Regions from separate parts of the Homo sapiens genome. Here region 1 is linked to region 2. Evidence: fine-mapped expression QTL. A gene starts in region 2. The other region holds a variant in brackets. All regions are shown on one strand. Distances are between the middles of the regions. Region 1 overlaps SPMIP3 (sperm microtubule inner protein 3). Region 2 holds the start of ADSS2 (adenylosuccinate synthase 2).

Region 1 (15,759 bases), 83 kb before region 2:
GCCTGTAGTCCCAGCTACTCGGGAGGCTGAGGCAGGAGAATCACTGGAACCCGGGAGGCGGAGGTTGCAGTGAGCCAACATCGCACCACTGCACTCCAGCCTGGCAACAGAGCGAGACGCCATCTAAAAAAAAAAAGTTCAACATTACTAATCATCAGAAAAATGCAAATGAATCCTGCAATGGGATATCATCTCACCTCAGTTCAAATGTCTTTTATCCAAAAGCCAGGCAATGATGAATGCTACTGAGGATGTGGAGAAAGGGGAACCTTCATACGCTGTTGGTAGGAATGTAAATTAGTACAGCCACTATGGAGAACAGTATGAAGGTTCCTCAAAAAACTAAAAATAGAACTACCATATGATCCAGCAGTCTCACTGCTGGGTATATATCGAAGAGAAAGGAAATTGTTATATCAAAGAGATATCTGCAGTCCTGTGTTTATTGCAGCACTATTCACAATAGCCAAGCTATGGAATCAACCCAAGTGTCTATCAATGGATGAATGGATAAAGAAAACGTGATATACACACACACACACACACACACACACACACACACACACACACACACACATGCATGCATGGAATATTATTCAGCCATAAAAAAGCATGAAATCGGTCGGGCAGAGTGACTCATGCCAGTAATCCCAGCACTTTGGAAGGCTGAGGCGGGAGGATCACCTGAGGTCAGGAGTTCCAAGACCAGCCTGGTCAACATGGTGAAACCCCATCTCTACAAAAATACAAAAATTAGCTGGGCATGATGGCAGGTGCCTGTAGTCCCAGCTACTCAGGAGGCTAAGGCAGGAGAATTGCTTCACCCTGGGAGGCGGAGATTGCAGTGAGCTGAGATTGCGCCATTGCACTCCAGCCTGGGTGACAGAGTGAGACTCCGTCTCAAAAAAAAAAAAAGCATTAAATCCTGTCATTTACAACAACATGAAGGGAACTGGAGGACATTATATCAAGTAAAATAAGCCAGGCACAGAAAGACAAATATTGCTTGTTCTCACTAATATGTGGGAGCTTGAAAAAAAATTGAACTTGTCGAAGAAAAGGAATTGAACTTGCGGAGACGGAGAGTAGAATGATGGTTAGCAGAGGCTGGGAAGGGGAGTGGGGAAGAGGGAATAAACGGTGGATGGTTAATGGAACAAAAATACAGTTAGAAGAAAAAAGATCAGTGTTTGGTAGCACAATGGGTGACTATTGTCTATAATTTATCGTACATTTCTTTTTTTTCTTTCTTTCTTTTTTTTTTTTGAGATGGAGTCTTCCTCTGTTGCCCAGGCTGGAGTGCTGTGGCTCGATCTCGGCTCACTGCAACCTCTGCCTCCTGGGTTCAAGGATTCTCCTGCCTCAGCCTCCCAAGCAGCTGGGATTACAGGCATGCGCCACCATGCCTAGTTAATTGTTGTATTTTTAGTAAAGACGGGGTTTCATCATGTTGGCCAGGCTGGTCTCAAACTCCAGACCTCAAGTCATCTGCCCACCTCGGCCTCTCAAAGTGCTGGGATTACAGGCGTGAGCCACCGCGCCCGGCCTGTTCTACATTTCAAAATAACTTAAAAAGTGGAATTAGAATGTTCCTAACACAAAGAAATGATAAATTCTTGAGGTGATGGACACCCGCATTACCCTGATTGGATCATTACTCATTGTATGCTTATATAAAAATGGCACATGTACCCCATAAATACATACATCTCTTATATATCTATAATAATTAAAAATAAAAATTTTTGTTAAAAAAGCATGGCAACCCATGACCGATTTATTCCCTTACAAGACTGATTCAGAATTTCTAGGCACTGAGCACTCACTCTGTCTTCAAAGGGATAGTGGGGGCTGTCTTTGTTAGGAGCTCAAAAGCCCTGAATACCTGGCATTCTTCTGTCCAGCCTGTCACTTCCACTGAAGTAAACTCCAGTCACGAAGCTTTCGGAGTTCGGGTTAGCAGATTAACCAAGAGCTCAGCTGTGTTTACTCAGATTTTCTCTCTCATTGTTTCTTCCTTCTTTCTCTTTCTCTCTCTCTCTCTTTTTTAAATAATCACAGCAGTAAAAGTACATTATATAATGATTAGGCTCTGTTGGATAGCCAACTATTCCATTATAGTGTAATGCTGTTTAAAATCTTCAAGTTGCTTTGAAAAACACACTCAGGTGAAATAAAGCAGCTGGCCAGCCGGCAGGCAATGAGTTAACCGTTGTCTATGAAAGGGAAGAGGAGGAGACATCACACACTCTTTTTTTCCAGTCCTTTCTGTCTCCTGGTTACTGAATAGTCCTAGTTTTGTTTTGGCTGATGGTCTGGGTGCCTTGTGATTGTTTTGATAGAGCTAAGAGTTAAAATAAATATTTCTGCAGCCAGAGGGTTCCAGCCCTGGTTCCTTGGTAACCTCATACAAGTTACTTAACTTCTTAGTACCTCAATTTTCTTGGGAGTAAATAGCAGTAAAACTCTGTAGGGTTGCTGGGAGGCTAATAGGAGTTAATACATGTTACCTGGTACATAATCCATGATTGTCAATAGGAACTCACATTTCTCCTTTCTCAAAGATGTTTTCAAGGACACAGAACACTCTCGCACACATCTTTGCCTCATTCAACCCTCCAGAGAGCTATTGTAATCAATGTGGAGAGTGGGAAAATGACCTGCCGCAGGTCACATGGGTCTCAGTCCGATGTTCTCCTGCTACACCACTAGCCATGTTTGTGCAAACCATAGGCCCAGCTGTCTATGCATACATAATAGATATGCAGAGTGCAAAATTCCTAAGGTAAATGGTAAAAAGTATGCCTTTGTCCCCCAGCCACTCAGTTTTCCTTCTCATTGTTTACTCTTTTCCCTGTGAACTTTTTTTTTTTTTTTTTTTTGAGACAGGGTCTCACTGTCACCCAGGCTGGAGTGCAGTGGTGTGATCTTGGCTCACTGCAACCTCCGCTTCCTGGGCTCAAGCGATCCTCCCGCCTCAGCCTCCTGAGTAGCTGGGACCACAGGCATGCACCTCCACACCAGGCTTTTTTTTTTGTTGTTGTATTTTTCATAGAGTTGGGGTCTCACCACTTTATGTGATTATTTAAATGTAGTAGTTTGCTTGTGGCAAGCCATATTCTCCAGTAAATAATCAGATGTGGGCCAGGTACGGTGGCTCATGCCTGTAATCCCAGCACTTTGAGAGGCCGAGGTGGGTGGATCACCTGAGGTCAGGAGTACAAGACCAGCCTGGCCAACATGGTGTGAAACCCCATCTCTACTAAAAACACAAAAATTAGCTGGGCATGGTGGCAGGTGCCTATAATCCCAGCTACTCAGGAGGCTGAGGCAGGAGAACTGTTTGAACCCGGGAGGTGGAGGTGGCAGTGAGCCACGATTGTGCCACTGCACTCCAACCTAGGCGACAGAGTGAGGCCCTGTGAAAAACAAACAAACAATCAGATGTGATATGAAATTTTAGACTAGAAACAACCTATATGTTTAGTCTAGGGTCAGTGGGGAACAGAAAGGGGGCTAACATAGAGAATGAATGGCTTACAAAAAATCCTCAGAAGGGCTGGAAGAACAGGCTCTGGGTGGGGCCCCCAGGAGGCATCTAGAACATCTCCACAAAACTGACCCATCACTGGTAAAGCTATGTCAGTCCAGATCAGGAAGCTGCTTCCAGGAGTATTGAGTTCAAGAACCTACTCCCAACGCCACTGTCTCTGCCACCTAGGAAGCTGGAATTTGAACCCTGGGACACAGACTTCAGCCACTGCCTTCGCAACAATTGCTTCTTGAATGCCCCAAAGCTGGAGATGAGACGCTGGAAAAGTGCCATATGCTCCACAACCTTGCTTGCCAGTAGAGAAGATCAAGGCAGCAGCCTCTGCCTAATGTCCACCTTCCAAATCTCAAGCAAGTACAGCCGATGCAAGGGCGCTCACTCCTAGCCGGGATTCTTGTTGTGAGGCACTCTGGGAAATGTCGTGCTTAGCTTGCAAGCTTGTGAGGTAGGAAGGCCCACTAAGAAATGAGACAGGATCTTGGGTCACAACTGATCAGAACAAAACCAAAAAAACAATGAAGTGAGACAGGAGACTATGCCCAGCTAACATTAGCACAGTACCTTTGCTTTTGCTTTTTCTTTTTTTTTTTGACGGAGTCTCACTCTATGGCCCTGGCTGGAGCGCAGTGGCACGATCCTGGCTCACTGCAAGCTCCGCCTCCCGGGTTCACACCATTCTCCTGGCTCAGCCTCCCAAACAGCTGGTACTACAGGCGCCCGCCACCAGGCCCGGCTACTTTTTTTGTATTTTTAGTAAAGACGGGGTTTCACCGTGTTAGCCAGGATGGTCTCGATCTCCTGACCTCGTGATCCTCCCACCTCAGCCTCCCAAAGTGCTGGGATTACAGGCGTGAGCCACCACACCCGGCCTGCTTTTTATTTTCTTATTGATTTATACTTATTTAATTTTTTTTTACTTTTGGTTTTTAAAGAAAAGCACATCTGTGTGTATTTGCCTTATGCTTGCCATTTCTTTTTGCTCCTTTCTAATCTTGTATTTCCTTCCCTAAATAGCCTATATGCATAGTCCTTCTACCATGTCAAATATTTTTACTGATTTCTTTCAAGATGGACTTTGTGGTACTAGATATCTCACCCATGGAATTATGTATAAACTGGCAATATAATCCTTTATGCCATAATTTTTTTTCAGATTCCCATCCATCATGACTGCCATCCGACTACGAGAATTTATTGAGCGTCGCCCAGTGATCCCGCCAAGGTATAGTTCTTCCAGATGCACAGCCTCCGGGACTGAAGCCAGGCAGCCAGGTGCCTGGGGAGTTAGAATTGCACATCCTGCTGCTCAGTGGTCCAGAGACTACTGCCAGGGAGTTCTAGGGAAGCTCTTTGGATATTTCCTGATGAGCAGGTCTGTGCAAACCTACCGGCAAAAGTCAGAGGAAGCTGAGACGCCGAAGAAAGAGGCTGACAAATCCAGTTTCTTACAAAGAAATATTTAACAGGGACTTACGAACAGAAGCCATATATGTGTCTCGGGTAGCAGTGAGATGAGATGGTGGATGTCTGCGCCATTACCCCTGAGACCCAGGATTTAGATACCATAGGGGAAGAGTGATACAGAAGGGATATATGGGACAATTGAAGTACGATAACACCAATGTTGTTTGGCCGAAGGGCAGAACTTACAGTAAGTACCTGCTCTGACACCAGGAACTATAGAGAAACTGGAAATCTTAGAGGCCTGGGGTGATATGATTTGGTTGTGTCTCCACTCAAATCTCATCTTGAATTGTAGCTCCCATAATTCCTACGTGTCGTGGGAGGGACCTGGTGGGAGGTAACTGAACCATGGGGTGGGGTTTTCCCATGCTGTTCTCCTGACAGTGAATAAGTCTCACGAGATCTGATGGTTTTATAAGTGGGAGTTCCCCTGAACAAACTCTCTTGCCTGCCGCCATGGAAGACATGCCTTTCCTCCTCCTTTGCCTTCTGCCATGATTGTGAGGCCTCCCCAGCCGTGTGGAACTGTGAGTCCATTAAACCTCTTTTTCTTTATAAAATACCCAGTCTCGGGTATTTCTTCATAGCAGTATGAAAATGGGCTAATACAAGGGGTTAATCAGAAGCCAACATGGTGAATTAGCATCCAACATAGAGTTGCTCTAGCCTCCACATTGGGTTTAGGGAAAGTTGTAAGAAAAAGAAGCCTCACACTCACTGCAGAATCCAAGCAAACAGGCAACTCCAAATTCCCAAAAGACCAGAAGGATATTGGTTTTTGCTTGGGAAGAGCTTTAGTGAGAAGTCTGAGCAATCCAAGCCCACATTTTGGATTGGACCATTTTACTCTGCTTGTGGGAAAACAAACTGCTCCTGTGCTTCCTCTGATGAGAGCTGACGGCACAGATGGAAACTAAGGAGCTGTTTCGCTCTTTCTTCAAGGTCCTCTATGGCACAAGAATAACAAGCCCTAGATCTGTCTTGTTGTGCTAAATTTGGTATCAGATGACAGTCCGTAAATCCTAACCCCACTCCCCCTTCACCACCTCGACGGGTCTGCAGCAGTGTAGTAGCTATAAATTTGTGACAGCAACCTCACACCATGACATGGGGGTCAGCCTCCTGTAGCCCCGTTGGCTTTGTGGCTTTGAGCAAGCCTCGTGTTTAGTTTATTTTATTTTTATTTATTTATTAGAGACAAAGTCTGGCTCTGTTGCCCAGGCTGGAGTGAAGTGGCTGGATCATAGCTCAGTCCAACTTCAAACTCCTGGGCTCAACTGATCTTCCTGCTGCCTTAGTCTCCTGAGTAGCTAGGGCTACAAGCTGCCTGGCTAATTTTTAAATTTTTTGTAGAGACCAGGTCTCACTATGTTGCCCAGACTGTCTGGAACTCCTGGCCTCAAGCAGTCCTCCCACTTGGTATCACAAAGTGTGGGATTATGGGTGTGAGCCACAACACCCAGCCTCATGTTTATTTTAATATTGAGTTATTTTAGCCATGTTTGGTCAACAAAAGAGAAGTCCTTCTTCCAGAAACTACAGAAGGAGTGAATGGATGGATGTGTCCTTCCTGGCTACATCTTAAGAATTTTCTTTTAAGACCTGATGCAGTGGCTCGTGCCTGTAATCCCAGCACTTTGGGAGGCCAAGGCGGGTGGATCACTTGAGGTCAGGAGTTCGAGACCAGCCTGGCCAACATGGTGAAACCCTGTCTCTACTAAAAATACAAAAATTAGCCAGGCGTGGTGGCACACACCTGGAATCCCAGCTACTCGGGAAGCTGAGGCAGGAGAATCGCTTGAACCCAGGAGGCAGAGGTTGCGATGAGCCGAGATCGCACTACTGCACTCCAGTGTGGGCAACAGAATGAGACTCTGTCTCAAAAAAAAGAAAGAAAGAAAAACTAAACAGATAGAATAATTGGAAGTTGTGATAAAGGAAATGAAAAAGGGTGTGAGGGAGAATAATCAGGTGGAGAGGTAGGCAGAAGGAGAATACCTTCTCTAGCCAGGGTGTTCAGGGAACAGCTCTCTCAGCAGTTGTCAGCCGAGCATGATGCTGGGTGATAGGGGCAGGGGGTGGGAGAAGGGTGCGGTCTAGGGAGGAGGAAGTGCAGGTCCAAAATCCCTGATTCATGAAAGAAGCCATGACATGATGACACAGGGGCTGGAGCTGGGAGAA[G/A]GTTGGGACGGTAGAGGCAGGAGAAGTTCCCGGAGGGCTTTGTGGCCTACAATAGTGAGTCTGGGTTTTATGCTATTATACATGCAATGGGTTGAAGGGTTTTATGCAATGGAGGGCCCTGATCCGATTTACTTTTATGAAGCTCACTCTGAGAACAGATTGTCTGAGGACAAGAGTGGGGGTTATTGCAGAGAGCAGGGGGAGGCAATGGTGAGCTGGACCAAGGGGTGGCCGTGGGCTGGAGAAGCCGTCCCATGGGAGATCCAGCCTGGAGGGGGAATGCACGGACTTGCTGATTGGACCCACAGGTCAGGAGAGGCACACAGAGCTGCCTCACGGTGCGCACTATGGGCGGAGGGTGGGGGCAACAAGACTAGTTCAGGTGCAGGAAGAGCCGGAGCCGTCAGTGTGCCCCCCAACCCACGTGCGGCTCGGAGGACAAGCCCCAGAGAGCAGAAGACAGCCCAGCCTTAGGCCTCCAGGGGCCCCAGGGCCTGCTGTGCTCAGTTCCACCCAAACCCCCGGACTCCCGGCCAGGTCCAGACACCACAGAGCACTAGGCAGGAGTGGCCAATGGAGGTTTGTTTCCATTTTCCCCAGATAAGACCACAGTTAAATAGGCCTCTCAGTGAACAAAACAGATCTCAAACACACACAGAAAGAGCAAACGCTGTGGGGAGACAATCAGGAAATACTGGAGCCAACTCCATTCCTCTCTCCCCTGCTTCCTCCTCATCCGGGTTTCAGGAAGGAAAGGTTTTTGGTTTTTTGTTTTGTTTTGTTTTGTTTTTGTTTTTTTGAGACAAAGTCTTGCGCTGTCACCCAGGCTGGAGTGCAGTGGTATGATCTTGGTTCACTGCAACTTCTGCCTCCTGAGTTCAAGTGATTTTCATGCCTCAGCCTCTCGAGTGCTGGGACTACAGGCGCCCACCACCACACCTGGCTAATTTTTTATTTTTAGTAGAGACAAGGTTTCACCATGTTGGCCAGGCTGGTCTCGAACTCCTGACCTCAAATGATCCACTCAACTTGGCCTCCCAAAGTGCTGGGATTACAGGCTTGAGCCACTGCACCTGGCCTACTTTATCTGTTTCTTTATATCCTGCCTGTCTCACCCCCTGGAATAATAATGGTAAACACTTCTGAAGCTCTTACTCTGTGCCAAGCACTGTTCTAGGTGCATCTGAACTCCTTTAACCTTCACTACTGTGAGTTTCATATGAGGAAACCAAGGCACGGTGTGGTTAAATGACTGCCCCAGATCCCACAGCTACTGACTGGCGGACATGGGACTTAAACTCACGTCTGTGCTTGTGGTCACTGCATTTTGCCACATCTCCAGGTTAGCCCTCCAGGCAGGGCTTACTTCCCTTTCTCTGCAACTCACTATCATGACCTCTGCCTTGCAGATTACCATTCCTGGTAGGCCCTGTAGGCACGGTTGTTGAAAATATTGAAATGAATGAGTGAGCAAAGTTATCCAATCGTTTATGTGTGGTGTGTACCCCTGGTGACTGATGGCACCTGAGCCTGCCCTTGTGTGGTTCTGCACAAGCATGTATCCAATTCATCCTTAAATGGCCAAGCCTCAGAGCTACGCTACAGAAAACTGAGGTTTTGGGACACTAAATAAAAGTAAATATTAAATGGTTCACACTTAGTAGTGGCCACATAAAATTCTTGTATTCATCATCATATTGGCCGGGTGCGGTGGCTGACGCCAGTGATCCCAGCACTATGGCAGGCGAGGCAGGCGGATCATGAGGTCAAAAGATTGAGACCATCCTGGCCAACATGGTAAAACCCCGTCTCTACTAAAAATACAAAAAATTAGCAGGGCGTGATGGCACACACCTGTAGTCCCAGCCTCTCGGGAGGCTGAGGCAGGAGAATTGCTTGAACCTGGGAAGGCAGAGGTGGCAGTGAGCCAAGATTGCACCACTGCACTCCAGCCTGGCGACAGAGCCAGACTCCGTCTCAAAAAAAAAAATCATATTATATGCAACTGTTTACTGGTGCCATCCCCTGGCTACAGGCTGGAGGCCTGTCACTCAGAGAAGGGCTGGGTGTGGCATTGGTTTGTGGAACCCAGGATACTCCTGAAAAGATCACTTTAAGTGGATTAAATTCAGTGTGTTGTAGAAGATCGAAGATACAGAATTTGTGTGTGATTTAAATAGACTTTTAAAACTTTGATCGAAACAGTCTCTGAAGATCCAGAGGCAACTGTGTGGTCAGCCCATCCTGCGTGGGATGATATTGGAGCAGCGTCATTTCTCTGGGGTACAACCCGTGGTTCATTGCCACACGCCAAAGAAATCAAGGACGTGAACACACAAGGAGTGAGGTTAAGAGCGGAGGTTTAATAGGCTAAAGAAAGAGAAAATCTCTCTCTTACAGAGAGAGGGAGTCGCAGTGGGTCTTCTGGTCCCTGGTGAAGTGCAGGTTTTATAACCGAGCTTGAGGAGGTGGTGTCTGATTTACATAGGGCACGAAAGATTGGTTGGACCAGGTGTGCCATTTGCATAACGTGAGAAGAACTGGTTAGGACTAGGTGTGGTGTTTGCATAATGTGGGAAGAACTGGTTAGGACTAGGTGTGCTGTTTGCATGGCACGTGAAGAAGCTGGCCGCCCCACCCTAATCTTTTATTATGTAGATGGGTTCTCTGCCTAGCCGGGTCACGTTCAGTTGCCTGTTTTTGTTTGTACTATACACGTGGTGACAGAGAAAGGGGAAGATGGCGCCTCCATGTTGAACATGCTGGCCCTCAGGTAGCCCTTTTCTATGGGCACAGCTGCCAGCATTCACCCACACAAGTTTCCAGCTTGCTTATTCATGTCTGCAGCATGATTTTACAGGCTACTCTTTGTTAGAAAATAAATGACTTTGGGGCTGCTTTTTGTTAAAAGGGAAATTCCGCCGAGGACTCTGTTGCCCTTTCCATCTGCCTAAATAATTTCCATCTCCTGTATCAATACCAACACCTTGGGAGATGTTAGCCACCAAGTACAAATGTCTCGTTTACTCTCATGCAATCATTAAAGGAGAAGACAGTATCATTCCCATTTTACTGATGAGGAAACTGAGGCTCCCCACTCCCTTGAGGAGATTCTTGTGGAGCCGGCAGAGCCTGGGAGATGAGGGCACAGGTCTGGAGGCTTCCTAGTCCTTCCTTTAGTTCTGTCTTCTGGACTTACTAGCTCATGTCCTTAGCTAAGTTATTTACTTCCCCTGAGCCTCAGTTTCTTATCAGGCGTAGCACTCACCACATCGTCTGTGATTAGATAGTTGCCTAAACGTGGCTTTCCTGACCAGATTATGAACTCTTGAGTGGAAAGACAACATTGTCATCACTGTATCCCTAGTGCCTAGCCCACTGGAGGCACAGCAGAGCTTGCAGTGAGTGCTTTTCGTTGAGTTAAAAGCATCTTCCAGCTAACACTGCTGTGTCTTTATGGCTTTTCCTATTTTTTAGTGTACAATGTCTATTTGCTGTCTGCCCCAAAATGAGAGAATCACAGAGTTTGTATGAAAATAGCACTGAATTCTTATTAAAACAAATCATCACACATACCCTCGGGTGGCAGAATAGCGACATGGAGTTTGGAGAACTGGGTTTGATACACGGCGCTGGCATTTACTTGTTTAAGTGGACTTTACTACTTAAAAAGTCCACTTAACCCTTCTGAGACTTGGGCTATTCTTATAAAGCAGAGAGTTAATCATGTTTACCTTGCAAGGTGACTGTGAGGATTAAGTGAGATCATTTCTGTAAAAATGCTCTGTAGAGGATGAGCCCCAGCAGGGCCGTAACAGAGAAGAGCGTGGTCACAGGAACACAGGCTACCTGGGGCTGTGGGGCCAGGCTCTGGAGGGACCGACACCTCTGGCCTCTCCTATAGATATTGAATTTTGACTGTGGCTAAGCCCAGATCCCACTCCATTTACAGCCACCCTCCCAGGGAACAGGTTTGCTCTCATGTGGACTGAATACATCACCTCAAAAAGCCAAGCCATCAGGGACTCAAAATCACGCACGGTGCCTGCACCTGCCCAGTGAGAAGGAAAGGGCTTTCTACAGCTGGTTAAAACCCGGGTTCAACAGAATCACTCTGAGCAGAGCCCTGAGCTGGGCTGGCCTCCACAGCCAAGTCTGAAGAGTCCGCACGTGCTTTCACAATCATTCACTGAGGCCGGGTAATGCACAGCCTCTGGCCTGGCTAGACATTTCCCCTTAGGAGGTCAAAACTCTCTTCTCCACCCAGCCATCCCTCTCTCCACACCCATCTCCTTACACACACCTTCCCATTTTCTTTTCACTCCTCCCAAAACCTGCCAAGAGACACTGCCAAGGGGCGGTGGCAGGGAGGATTACTTGGTGCTGGTGCTGGGATTCTTTATCCTCAAATCAGCTTTTACTGACTGCTTCTAAGGAGCAGCGCTGAGTTTACTCACCTGTATTCAGCAGGTGTTTGTTTGTATGCACGCCATGGTCAAAACCCAGCCCACCGCCCACAGCCCAGCAACTGTAGAAACCAGCATCCTTTAGGTGGGTTCTTAAACTGTAATGTGGCCCTGGGGTAATATTCCAAGGTGGTGCTTCAGAAAATGGATAGGTGCCTAAGAAAGCTACGTGTCCCACCCCTGTGCATTCAGAAATGTCATTTGTTCCCTTTATTGTGCCAGTTCCTCTCTCTTCTTATGACTTAATACCCCATTGTTATTTACCATCCAGGGCTCAGTCATATTATCCCAGCCACTGGGCAGGCCCAGACAGCCTGTGGTTTTTCTGCAAATCAGAGCTCCCAGAGGTCGTCTTTGCACAGACAGAGACAGAACTCGCCCTGCTCAGTGCTTGCCTTTCATGCTAGACAGTCAGGCCCACTCTAGCCCTCATACACTCCACTCAGAACCTAATTCTGTCCATGTCTTGGCCCCTATAATTCCCTTTGCTTGGAATCTCTTCCCCAACCCCTTTGCTTATCCGAGTCCTAGATCTAGATACTCCTCCCTCTTCTGTGTCCTATGGACCCTTTATTCAGATCACTATTTCAGCATGTGAAGAGCTTTTTGAGGACAAGCGCTGCTTCTTAGTCAGCTTTGTATCTGCAGAGCCTAGCATAGTGCAGGGTGTTTTGTGTGCATTCAATAAATGTTGGTTGAGTCGAACTGAAGGCATAGTTTCAGTTTTCATCCATTATCTAACACATATTTAGTGAGATACGTTATGCAAAATGATGTGCTACTTTCTACTGACTCTGAATTTTTTTTTTTTTTTTTGAGATGGAGTCTCACTCTGTCCCCCAGGCTGGAGTGCAGTGGCACGATCTCAGCTCACTGCAAGCCCCACCTTCCAGGTTCACACCATTCTCCTGCCCCAGCCTCCCAAATAGCTGGGACTACAGGTGCCCGCCACCACACCTGGCTAATTTTTTGTATTTTTAGTAGAGACTGGGTTTCACCGCGTTAGCCAGGATGGTCTCGAACTCCTGACCTTGCGATCCGCCCGCCTTGGCCTCCCAAAGTGCTGGGATTACAGGCGCGAGCCCAGCCTCCTGACTTTGAATTTTTATGGCATCTACTGACTGCTCAGAATCTGTGGGACATCCCGAAAGACCCCACATGTCCAGGCATCACAAACTCAATAAAGTCACCTTCCCAATGATGGCCATTTATTGTGTTCCCTCTCTTGGGGAAAGGCAGGATTCTTTCCAATGCCTGAAGATGCAGCTTTGTCTTGGACACTTCCCTGTCTTTTACCCTCCATCCTATCTCCTAAAATATCCTCAATCAGCCCTATCCTCTCCATCCACATTTCCATCATATCAGAGCTTCGTCATGTCCCACATAAAGCACTACAATCACTTCCTAAGCAGTCTTTCTGCTTTTAGTCACATGGTCTTCAAATTTGTTTTCTGGCTGGGTGCAGCGGCTCGCACCTGCAATCCCAGCACTTCGGGAGGTCAAGGCGGGAGAATCACTTGAGCCCAGGAGTTCCAGACCAGGCTGGGCAACATAATGAGACCCTGTCTTTTAAAAAAAATGGTTTTCCACATTGCCATCAAAAAAGATCTTTCTCTACCATGTCATGAACCTTGTTAAACATCTCACAAAGTAGCCTGGGCAACATAGTGAAACTACAAAAAAAAATTATATATATATATATATGCATGCCAGGCATATGGTACATGCCTGTAGTCCCTCCCAGCTACTTAGGAAGCTGAAACAGGAGGATCTCTGGATCCCAGGAGTTAGAGGCTACAGTGAGCTATGATCACACTGCACTATAGCCTGGGCAACAGTGAGACTCCATCTCTAAAAGCAAACAAAACAAACAACAGCAAACCTCACAAAGATTCCTATCACCTCCATCAGTAGTTCTCAAACTTTCAGACACAATACCCCCTTTTTAATAATAGATATTTTGTAATATCTCTGCTATTCTTCTGAAATAAAATCTGTAAATAATATAAACCAACCACATATAATTTAAAAATATTAGGTTGGTGCAAAAGTAATTGCAGTTTTTGCCATTGAAAGTAAAGTCATAGCAAAAACCGCAATTACTTTTACACCAACCTATCTCATTACAGTCTTATAACTATAATATAAAAGGAAAAGCAATGTACTATAAAATGAGACATATTTCTGGCCGGGTGCAGTGGCTCATGCCTGTAATCCCAGCACTTTGGGAGGCCAAGGTGGGCGGATCACTTGAGGCCAGGAGTTTGAGACCATCCTAGCCACCATGGTGAAACCCATCTCTTCTAAAAATACAAAAATTAGCCCGGTGTGGTGGCAGGCACCTGTAATTCCAGCTACTCGGGAGGCTGAGGCAGGAGAATCACTTGAACTCAGGAGGCGGAGGTTGCAGTGAGCTGAGATTGGGCCACTGCACTCCAGCCTGGGCGACAGAGTGAGACTCCGTCTCAAAATAAATAAATAAATACAATAAAATAAAATGAGATGTATTTTAAAGCATAAAACCTGAGCACCATTGCCCTCCAGCCTGGCCTCCCTCAGCCCCGTTGTATTCCACTTGTACCACCCACCCTTGTCCCACCTCTTCTTACGTTCACCCCACAGAAGTGCTCCCTCCCAGTCCCCACATGTTAGCTCAATGATGCTCCCAAAACTCCTCAAAATCCAGCCTCTAGACAGGGCTCGAGTCCCCCTCCCAGGCTTGCAAGCGCCTTGTGCTTTGACATCACAGTGCTGCTTCACGATTAGTCTTTACAGACTTATTTGTTACAGTTAAAAAAAAGATGAAATTTTGTAAACATCAAAAGTAGAAAAAACCAGTATAATGAGCTCCCATTTACCAATTCCCACATTTCTTTTATTATTTTTATTTTTATGTACTTTTTTCAGACAGAGCCCTCCGTTTACGGATTCCCACATTTCTCTTTTTTTTTTTTTTTTTTTTTTTTTTTGAGACAGGGTCTTGCACTGTTGCCCAGGCTGGAGTGCAGTGGCACAATCTCAGCTCACTGCAACTTCTGCCTCCCGAGTTAAAGCAATTCTCCTGGCGCAGCCTTCCCAGTAGCTGGGATTACAGGCATGTGCCACCACGTCCAGCTTTTTTTTTGTATTTTTAGTAGAGATGGGGTTTCACCATGTTGGCCAGGTTGGTCTCGAACTCCTGACCCCAAGTGATCCACCCACCTTGGCCTCCCAAGGTGCTGGGATTACAGGTGTGAGCCACCGTGCCCAGCCCGATTCCCACATTTCAACTGTTATCAACATTTGCCCCATTGGTTTTATTTATTTATTTCTTATTTTTTGTTTTTCTTTTCATTTAATTTCATTTTATTCCAGAAATAGGCTTGCCCACCCACTGGTTTTATATATCCACTTATTAATTTTTTTCCTAACGTTTTGAACCTAATACCTGATATGTTACATATTTCCTTATGAATCCTGAACATAAATAACATTTTATTACAGATGCGGGAGGTTGTGGTGGGAGGAGGGAGGCCTGCGAGGCCCATACACTCAGCTATGGTAGAAAAGGGCTGGTTATGCATGAAAAAGACCCTTATCAGGAAATTCCATGGGTTTTAGGGGCTCAGTGCCAGAAACTGGGGACAAAGACCAAATACGTTTTGTATTATGCCGCAGCTGGCATTCTTCTGGAATGAACTAATTGTAAGAATGGCTTTCTTCTCACCTCCTCACTTTCTGCTCTAGTATATTCATCGCTCACCAAGGAAGAGACGTTCAAGGCTATTACCCTGGGCAGCTGGCAAGACTCCATTTTGATCATAGTGCAAAGAGAGCTCCCAGGTGAGACACCTCCTCAATCCCAATGTCCAAGAATGTCACGAAAGCTACAATGATAAAAAGGGGTCGGCGGGGGGAAGATACACTACTCCTCATAATACTGATGATAGCAAAAATAATAATGGATAGAAGAGGTTTGCAAGAAAATATACCAAACTGTTAATGTTTTTTTTTTTAATGAGTGGTGAGATTATTCTTATTTTATATCTTGCTGTTTTGAGAAAAGGTATTGCTCTGTTGCCCAGGCTGGAGTGCAGTGGCGAGATCTTGCCTCAC
Region 2 (8,000 bases):
ATTGTTCTTTTCATTGCTTTCAGCAGGCAATACTGAATGTTGATGTTTCTGTTGCTAAAAGTATTACAATAGTCACCAATTTTAATTTATCAATATGTAGCTCATCCACACTAATCTTTGGTGTCAACATCTGACACAGTCCCTGAGAGATAAGATAGCTGGATTCGTATCCAGTTACAGAAAGAAAGCTATTAAGTAAATATCAATTTATTGGTTCATTCTAGATTTGCTCTAGGCAACAGTTTTTCTTAGAGATACTTGTAAACATCCAACAAACCCATCCATTCCCACCAAAGTTAAAGAAACAGAATAATTTTGATCAGACACCACTGAGATGGTCTCATACACGTTTAAAAACTCATGCCTCAAAAGTAGAGCTGACAGGATACTATATTTACTAACTGCAATAGGACATCCTCATTGACCGAACATTGAGATTTACTGTCCTCAGCGGGGAATAACTAGTTACTAGAACCCCACATGGTATTCAGTCGAAATATGTTGAGGAGATACATGAAAAAGATATAAATATCAGTTACCTATTTTCTCCTAAAAACAAGAGATAAGATTTTAATATAAACAAAGACTTTGAATGGTACAATGTAAAAAATTCCAGCTGAAAAACTAAATAACAAATGTTAATCCAAGGAATGCTAGGAATTCCGCCTTAAATGTATGCCACCAGTCAATTAAATTGTCCAGAGAGATGTTAAAACAATTACAAGAAAGGGTTACTATTATTTATTTCAAATAAATTTCCAGGGGTGATCTTGCCACCCAGAATACATTGGTTGAGTATTTCCCTTCTGCTTCATATAGTATTAGGTGCTACAGAATAAGAAAAGGAAGAAGTCTCCCTTTTGAGAAAATTTACATTATAGTAGAGAAAGCACAGTAACCAAACAGAACAAGATTTAACCAAGTATAGTATAACAGACATTGGTAAATACTTATATACTAGGGAAATGCTATAAATGATATAAAAAGAATCAGAAAAATGGAAATAGCAATTGTTATAAACCTGGAAGAATGGCTTACCTTAAATGCTAATTACCTACTATCCTTAAAATTATGGGAAGTAGTCTGGCAGATCATTTTAGCTGTACAAGGTCAAGGCATTAAATAATACTAACGTTATTTTCTTTTAAATTATCTTTCACCTTTTCTATTTCAAGGAGAAAGTTTTAGTTTGCTGCTGATATGTCTTTTATGCTTCTTTAACACTAATAGTGGTTTCAGATCTTCAGCAGATACTTGTATCTAGCTAGAAAATAGTAATATTTTTTCAGTATGTTTATTTTTATAGCAAGCTTTTATAAACATATATCAAGTGATGGGGTGTGCTTTCCCTTATGACTAACTTTAGTATTTTCTCTTTTTATTGACTTTGAAGCCTTGGAGAGAATACACACGGAACACTGCTCTAGCCTTTCCCGATCACAGGCAACTTCATGTGTGTCATTATAACCAAGACCACCGAAGTTACTTTCCTCAAGAACAATAAATAAGTAAGCCTTTGCTTAAAGCCTGGTATAAACTACTATAGTTAAGAAGTTTCTGTAGCTTCTACTCAGCAAAATACAGAAAACAAAGCACAGTATTTTACTTTGAGAGAACTGGGGAAAAAACAGTATTAGGCTTCCTTTTGTGATGCCAGAAAGGGACTTTCTTGGTCCCATACTTTAACCTCTTGAGAAACGTATTAGACTAGTACCTTTCTCCATCCCGACCTTCTCAACACTTTTGCTTACACAGCAGTTGTCCCCCAGATTGTGAGCTCCTTGTGGGCACAATCCCTGCCTTTTTCAGATTTTTGACTCCCAGGCTAAGTGATCCCCTGCAGATACTCAATGTTTACTAGATGAATGACCTGTACCCAGGGTTGGGCCTCTATTTAATTCTTCTCTCTTCTTCTTAAAATAAATATTGATTTAAAATTAAGGCAGCAGTAGTGGTTGTCCTTTGATGCAAGTCCTACATATTTATGGATCTGGGGAACCTACCAAGTTATAAATAACTCCCCATAAATCCTGAATCTGAACAACACAGGCCTTAAGCGCTGTTAAGAGTGAAAACGCCACTAGGTTTGCATCTATTGTTTCCAAAAAGGCATTTTATACATTAAAATTTATCATTAAATGCAATGCCAGTTTTTCTTTTTAAAACTATATTTTATGTTGGGAGAAAGTCCTTATGAGTCTACTGGTGAAATACGGATACATTATGTGTACATCACTTCTGGAGAAACAGTACTGAATAAAATTTGAACTCATGACATAAATATGGCAGAATATATTAAACTCTAACAAAGGACATATTTTCACTAACACACAAAACTTAAGACATCAAACAAGGCAATCCAAGCTCACAATGTCTTACTGTTGATTTTTTCCAGCTCTCTATACACACTCACTAAGAACTTCAACATTCCAATTTTATAACCTAGGGGAACTTCATTAAGTAGATGCCAGCTTACTAGGGCTAACCAAATAATACAAAGTTACCAAGGTAAATCACAAAAGAGATAATGCTTAAATCTATTCATTACTCATCTATTTTTTGCTAACAAGACTAATAAAGAATCCTAATGATACACTTTTAAAAAGCACTAAAAGAACATAAGGATTCTATAAGGAAGGTAGTTAAGTCAAAAATACACAGGTGAGGGAAGTCTGCCCAACAAGGCCCCTCATTTGTTTCTCCACTATCTTCAGCTAACATTTTAAAGCCAAACTTAGTTCCTTCTCAATCACTTCTCTAGCCTTTCCAAGGGCATCAGATCAGGTTGGTCCATGACTTCAAGACTACTTTCTCGGTAACATTAGTAACACCTTCTCCAAGCTACAAACTACTTCTAATATTTCTCCATAGAATATTAAAATTGAGGATCCTTTAGAATAAATACCATAATGGTTGTGTTCTCCAAACCTTCTTACAACCCATAGTGTAGCTCAACCTGAGCTATTTCCATATTAACGAGATGTCAAGATGTCAGTGAAGGAGACACACAGGCCTCAGCCTCTCTCCCGCTGTCGACAGCAAGAAAGCTCGGTATTCGGATACGTCTTCCCCACAGCATGACCAGATCTGAATGTAAGACAAAAGGTAGGTAAAGGCTGGATTTCTGGAGTATTTCCTAAGAAAGTGCGGGGCAGGAATTTAATGGCAACACCCTGAAGATTGCTAAGGTACAAAGTGTGTTGCCAGAGGGGTGGAGAAATAATAGGCTGGAAGGGAAGGAGGGAGAGGTGGTAGTGACAGTTTCCTAAGAGGCAATTAGTGCAACAGCTATTTCAGAATGGGCAGGGTGGATTTCTAAATGAAAACAAAACAAAACGAAACAAGGTAAATCAGAGAATATTTGCAGTATTTGCATTTAGCTTTTTAACATACCTGTGATTTCATTGTTTCTGCATGCTCAAAATGGTATTCAAGGGGGCCTATAACTTACTAGAACATATACAGCATGGCACCATCATATCATGCCATGCATGTTCAAAAACAAATATTCTTGCAACCTAAACAGATAGCAGTTAACTTCAAATATTACATTATGCTTTGTTTTGAAAGTGGTTATTGCTCATCTGCTTAGAATTTTGAAACTGGAGAGAGTTATCTGAGAGCCTTTACAAAGGCCTTACCCTGTATGCTGCGTCAAAGGAAACGACAAATAGGAAGAAAGGTTACACTGAAAACCACGTGTCTCCCGTTAGAAGTACATTACCACCTCGTTTTCCGAAAGTTCACTTTCGATGTCACCTTAACAATGCAAATATTTATTTCCAAATACTCAATTTGACATCCATGTATTTACTTCCCTCACTTTTTTTGAACAGAGAAGGGATTCCTTCCTCTGGGACCAACTAGTAAAAGTAATTTCTCCTTAACTTTCATGTATGGAGCACACTGTAAAAACAAAAACAAAAACAAGAAACTCAGGGCCCTAAAACAACAGTCCAAAGCCCAGAGGTGGGTGGGTTTGGATGTCAACAAAGTGGACCAGAGGAAGCAAAGCACTGCATGCCACGGTCCTGCAGATGGGGGATCGGTGAGTCTGATTTCAGGACGTTTCGAAACAATCCACTCCCACTCCGCCGCCCTGGGCGGGGCGGGGGGGCGGTGATGGGGGGTTCTGCCGTCGCGCCGGGTCTCCGCCCGCAGTCGGAAGAGTTGGGAGCAGGCCTCGGGCGGTAGCTCCTCAAACTCGGACCGCATCCCACCTCCACCCCGGCCTCAGTCCCGGCGCTGAGCACCACTCGCCAGACGCAAAACTGCAACTGCCAGGCATCGCGCATCTCTCAAAGGCTCCCCGCCAGCCCACCTCTTCCTCCAGGGCCACCCCAAGTTTCACCCGACGCTCCAGGTCAGGGGTCCCCGACCTCCCGCCATTTCTCCACGTAGCCGCAGCTCAGGACAGGAGGAGAGAGCCTCAAGGTGACACCTCATTTTGGCCAGTGGATCCGGGTTCTGGGTCCGAGTTCCCGGGCACCAGGAGCCAGGCAGCCCGAGCTCCCGGGCCCGGCTTCCCATGAGAGGCCCCGTCGCCTCACCTGGCAGCGGCACACGATGTCGGCGTCCTGCGCCAGCAGGTCCACCACCTTCCCTTTGCCTTCGTCGCCCCACTGCGCACCGAGCACCACCGTCACCCGGTTTCCTCCGGGCCGCGCCCTGGGGCGGCCGCAATCGCCGTTGGGCAGGGAGGATGCCGCCGGGTAGGTCTCGGCGAACGCCATGGCTCCAGTGACGCGAGGAGAGCCCGAAGGAGAGGCGGCCGGCGAGGAGTGAGCGAACTGAACTGCTCTGCGGCCGCCAGCCACATGCAGAGGAAGAAGGAGCCAGAGGCCGGCCCCGCCCCCGCCCCGCCGGGCCGCCACCCTCCAGCCAGTCCCCGCCCCGCTCTCCGCCACAGCCCGCTCAAGGGGGTACCATGACTGCCCCGCGCAGGCCGGCCTCGGCAGCACCGCCCGCAGGAAGAGGCCCTGGTGGCGGCAACGGCCGCCACCCCGGACCGAGGCCACGCCCCTTCCGCGGCCTGGCGCGCCACTCCCGTGCAAACCTCGCGAGCGGAAAAGGTCAGGGGCGGGGCTTCGAGAGCGCTTCTCCTTCAGCACCCCGCCTACCCGCTCTACCTCTCGCTTTCAAACTGGAGAGGCGCGGAAGCGCGTGTGGAGCGTCGGACTACAAATCCCAGCATGCAACGCTCTGGGCTGCGGCGGTGTATTCTGGGGCCACTGTGTCTGCCATCTGCAGGTTTGTCTGGATTTGTCTTTATTAAGGAATGAATGTGTACAAAATACAAACTGTGGAATTTCGCAGTACAAACAGCATAAAATCGGAACGTGTAAGTGTAGAATTGGAAATTAAAAGTCCGGAAGTAACAGAGATGGGGACAGGGATCAAAAAAGACAAAATTCAAAAGTAAGGCAATAAGATAAAGGACATGAGACCTGAAATCAATAGATCAAATAAAGTCCTAATCCTCATTTTACATAGTAGTAACAAAGGCTCAGAGAGGAGGAGTGGATTACCTATGTCGCATATAGTACATATATGCAGATACCGTCATGCACTTCTTTATTTTTTAATCCCCACAACCATATAAGGTAGGTGATCCTCTATTATCCTTATTTTACAGGATTTAAAAGCTGGGTAACTTGCCCTAGTGAGGCTTGAATTGGTACTTCGATAATCTAAGTCCAGAGCCCATGTCCTTCCTGTAGATTCCACTGTCTCTCAGTTACATTTGTAACTAGATTCTGGTGTATACCTACTGTTCATCTAATGCCCTTTCGACACCAACACAAATTAACTATGATGTTTAATTCTGATAAAAGGTGCTTCGAAAAAAAGTGGGAATGGAATCACATTATATGTACCGTCTCCCAAATCGCCTGTACATACTGTATGTTCACTAATGGTCCCTAGAGTACACTTTAGTATTTTATTTCTAGTCAATGAGTTAAGTCAGGAACATTGAGAACCTGCTATTAACTAACTAAGTGTCCTGGGCACTGATAACATAGGAGAAATAAAGATACAATTCAGCCCTCAAGGATTCAAATTATTTGGTCTATTGATTAGTAAACAATTATAATACTATGTGATAATTGTTGTCTATCTTGGCCTTATTACAAGATCACAAACATTTTGGAAACAAGAATGCCATCTATTTCTTTCTAGTCAAATGCCCGAGGTAGTGTTGGGCAGATAGTAGATACTGAATAAGCACACCTTACTAGTCATTTCCATTCAATTTTTTAAAATCATTTATGGGAGACTGATTTGAGTAATAATAAAACTCTGGTTTCCTGCACAGCCAGCTCTACATGAATTACTCTTTCTCTATTGCCATTTGCCTGTCTTGATGAATTGGCTCTGTCTAGGCAGTGGACAAGGTGAACCCCTTGGGCGGTTACAAATTTGGGGGCTTGTCTGGCATTGCCTTTGTGGCTACCTACTCGTGGTTCAGTGGCCCCCCTCCAGCAATGGATCCAGAAGCCTGCCCAAGCGGCCACCCAGTTCTCTTGGACTGGGGGCTGACTCTGGTACTCTCTCTACTGGTGGGGTGCTGCCAACCCAGTGTGCATGGATTTAATTGCAATGGAGAAATAGCCCCGGGGAGACGTCCCTTAACTGTAACCCTATCACAGGGTGTCTGTCTGTAGCCCCATTGCAGGGCAGGGTGTCTGGATTGGTGAGTATCCTAGGTGCTGCCAACGCCTCCTTTCTCCCAACTGGTTCTGTAGCCCTATGGTGAGGTGTCTGTAGCCCCATTGCAGGGTGTCTGTTCGGCTCCTGGGGGGGTCTCATTTGGCTCTTTCTAACTAGTAGGAAGAGTCCAGGTTTGGGAGACTTCTCCTGAATCAGGAAGATTTCAAGGAGGTTTCTCAGAAGGAGAATAGGAGGATAGTTTGGAAGGGATACTCCCGGAGTTCTTGGTTAGGGATCTGATTGGGAACGCCTTCTGTCCTCTCGTCTTTGTGTGCGTTTGTATATGTGGAAGGGATCTCAGAAGAGGTTGCTGATGGAAGTCCAGCAGACCTAACTCAAAACCCTCCTTATTTGTCTGGTCACATTTGATGAGCCCTACAGAAGGCTCAACAGGCCTGTCTCGGGGTGACTATCTGCTCTTCGTCTTGCCCAGAGACCCCATTGTGAATTACCGTTCGGAGGTCATCCCTCCCCACCTGGAGTGGATCAAAGACAACAGGGACCAAAGAGAAAAAGTTTTTGAGCTTTGCCAGGCTGATATTGGGAGCTGAACGAGGTGGCTAATGTGTGTTTTGTTATGTGTGTTTTGCTGGGATGGAAAATGTTAATTCGGTTCCCCATGCAGCCCGCTGGGCAGCATCTTGCAAATTAAGAATCTCGTCTATGTTTCCATAAAACAGTAAAGGGTGATTTTCTCTTGTAAAGTGGCTTGAACCCCACAGCTATAGCACAAGCAAGCAGGGTCATCAAAAGCCACTCCATTCTTCTGGAAACTGCAGAGAAAGGGAACCCGGAAATCTGGTATGCCGGCACAGAGGGTATGAAATTCTTACCGGACCGGTTTGTGGTCTCTCTCTCTCTTTCTCAGTAAATAGTAAACTGTTTACCTCCTCTGCAAGGGTTTGATAAATGGAAAAAAGGATTTGTGAGACTAGTCTTAGGCTGTAGCAAATCTGGTGTAGTTTTGTGCTAAGAATTTGTCTTTCTGTGTTCTGTAGTGGATAGATGGGTGTCACAGGATAGAACGTGGGTTTAGGACCCCTATAAGCCTGCTTTTCAAGCCGGCTTGGCAGGCTGGTCAGTTACAAACTTTGCTACAGGTCCCTGAAGCCAATACTGTATGAAATTTCTCTGTCTTGTTTTGTGTCCTGAAGAGCTTAACTTTGTGACCATGTGGAGATACTTTCTCTTGGTTTCCACCATCTAGAAGACAGGAATTTGGGGATTTTTAGGTTAGCCCTAAGAATTTTCTTGAGCAGTTAAAAGCCTTTGCAAGCTTGAAACTGGCT

Evidence for each region. PIP is the estimated chance that this variant, and not a neighbour inherited with it, causes the effect. A credible set is the group of variants that fine-mapping cannot tell apart.
Region 1: its variant is the best candidate, but not a certain one, in a credible set for the expression of ADSS2 in monocytes after R848 (Quach 2016, PIP 0.89).

The regions. Positions count from the first base shown.
Region 1 is chr1:244,359,982-244,375,740 of GRCh38, forward strand. SPMIP3 (sperm microtubule inner protein 3) reads left to right here. Exons shown (of 5, transcript NM_001012970.3): 2 at 4,707-4,775; 3 at 15,391-15,486. The coding sequence starts at 4,720. Among named protein-coding and RNA genes, the nearest start is that of SPMIP3, 15 kb to the left of the region's middle. RefSeq lists an enhancer at 1,713-2,538. The variant G/A (reference allele first, on the strand shown) is at 7,199.
Region 2 is chr1:244,447,085-244,455,084 of GRCh38, forward strand. ADSS2 (adenylosuccinate synthase 2) reads right to left here and starts at 4,825. Exons shown (of 13, transcript NM_001126.5): 1 at 4,551-4,825. The coding sequence starts at 4,733. It also overlaps a transcript of CATSPERE not described here. RefSeq lists silencers at 4,005-4,284, 4,725-5,214.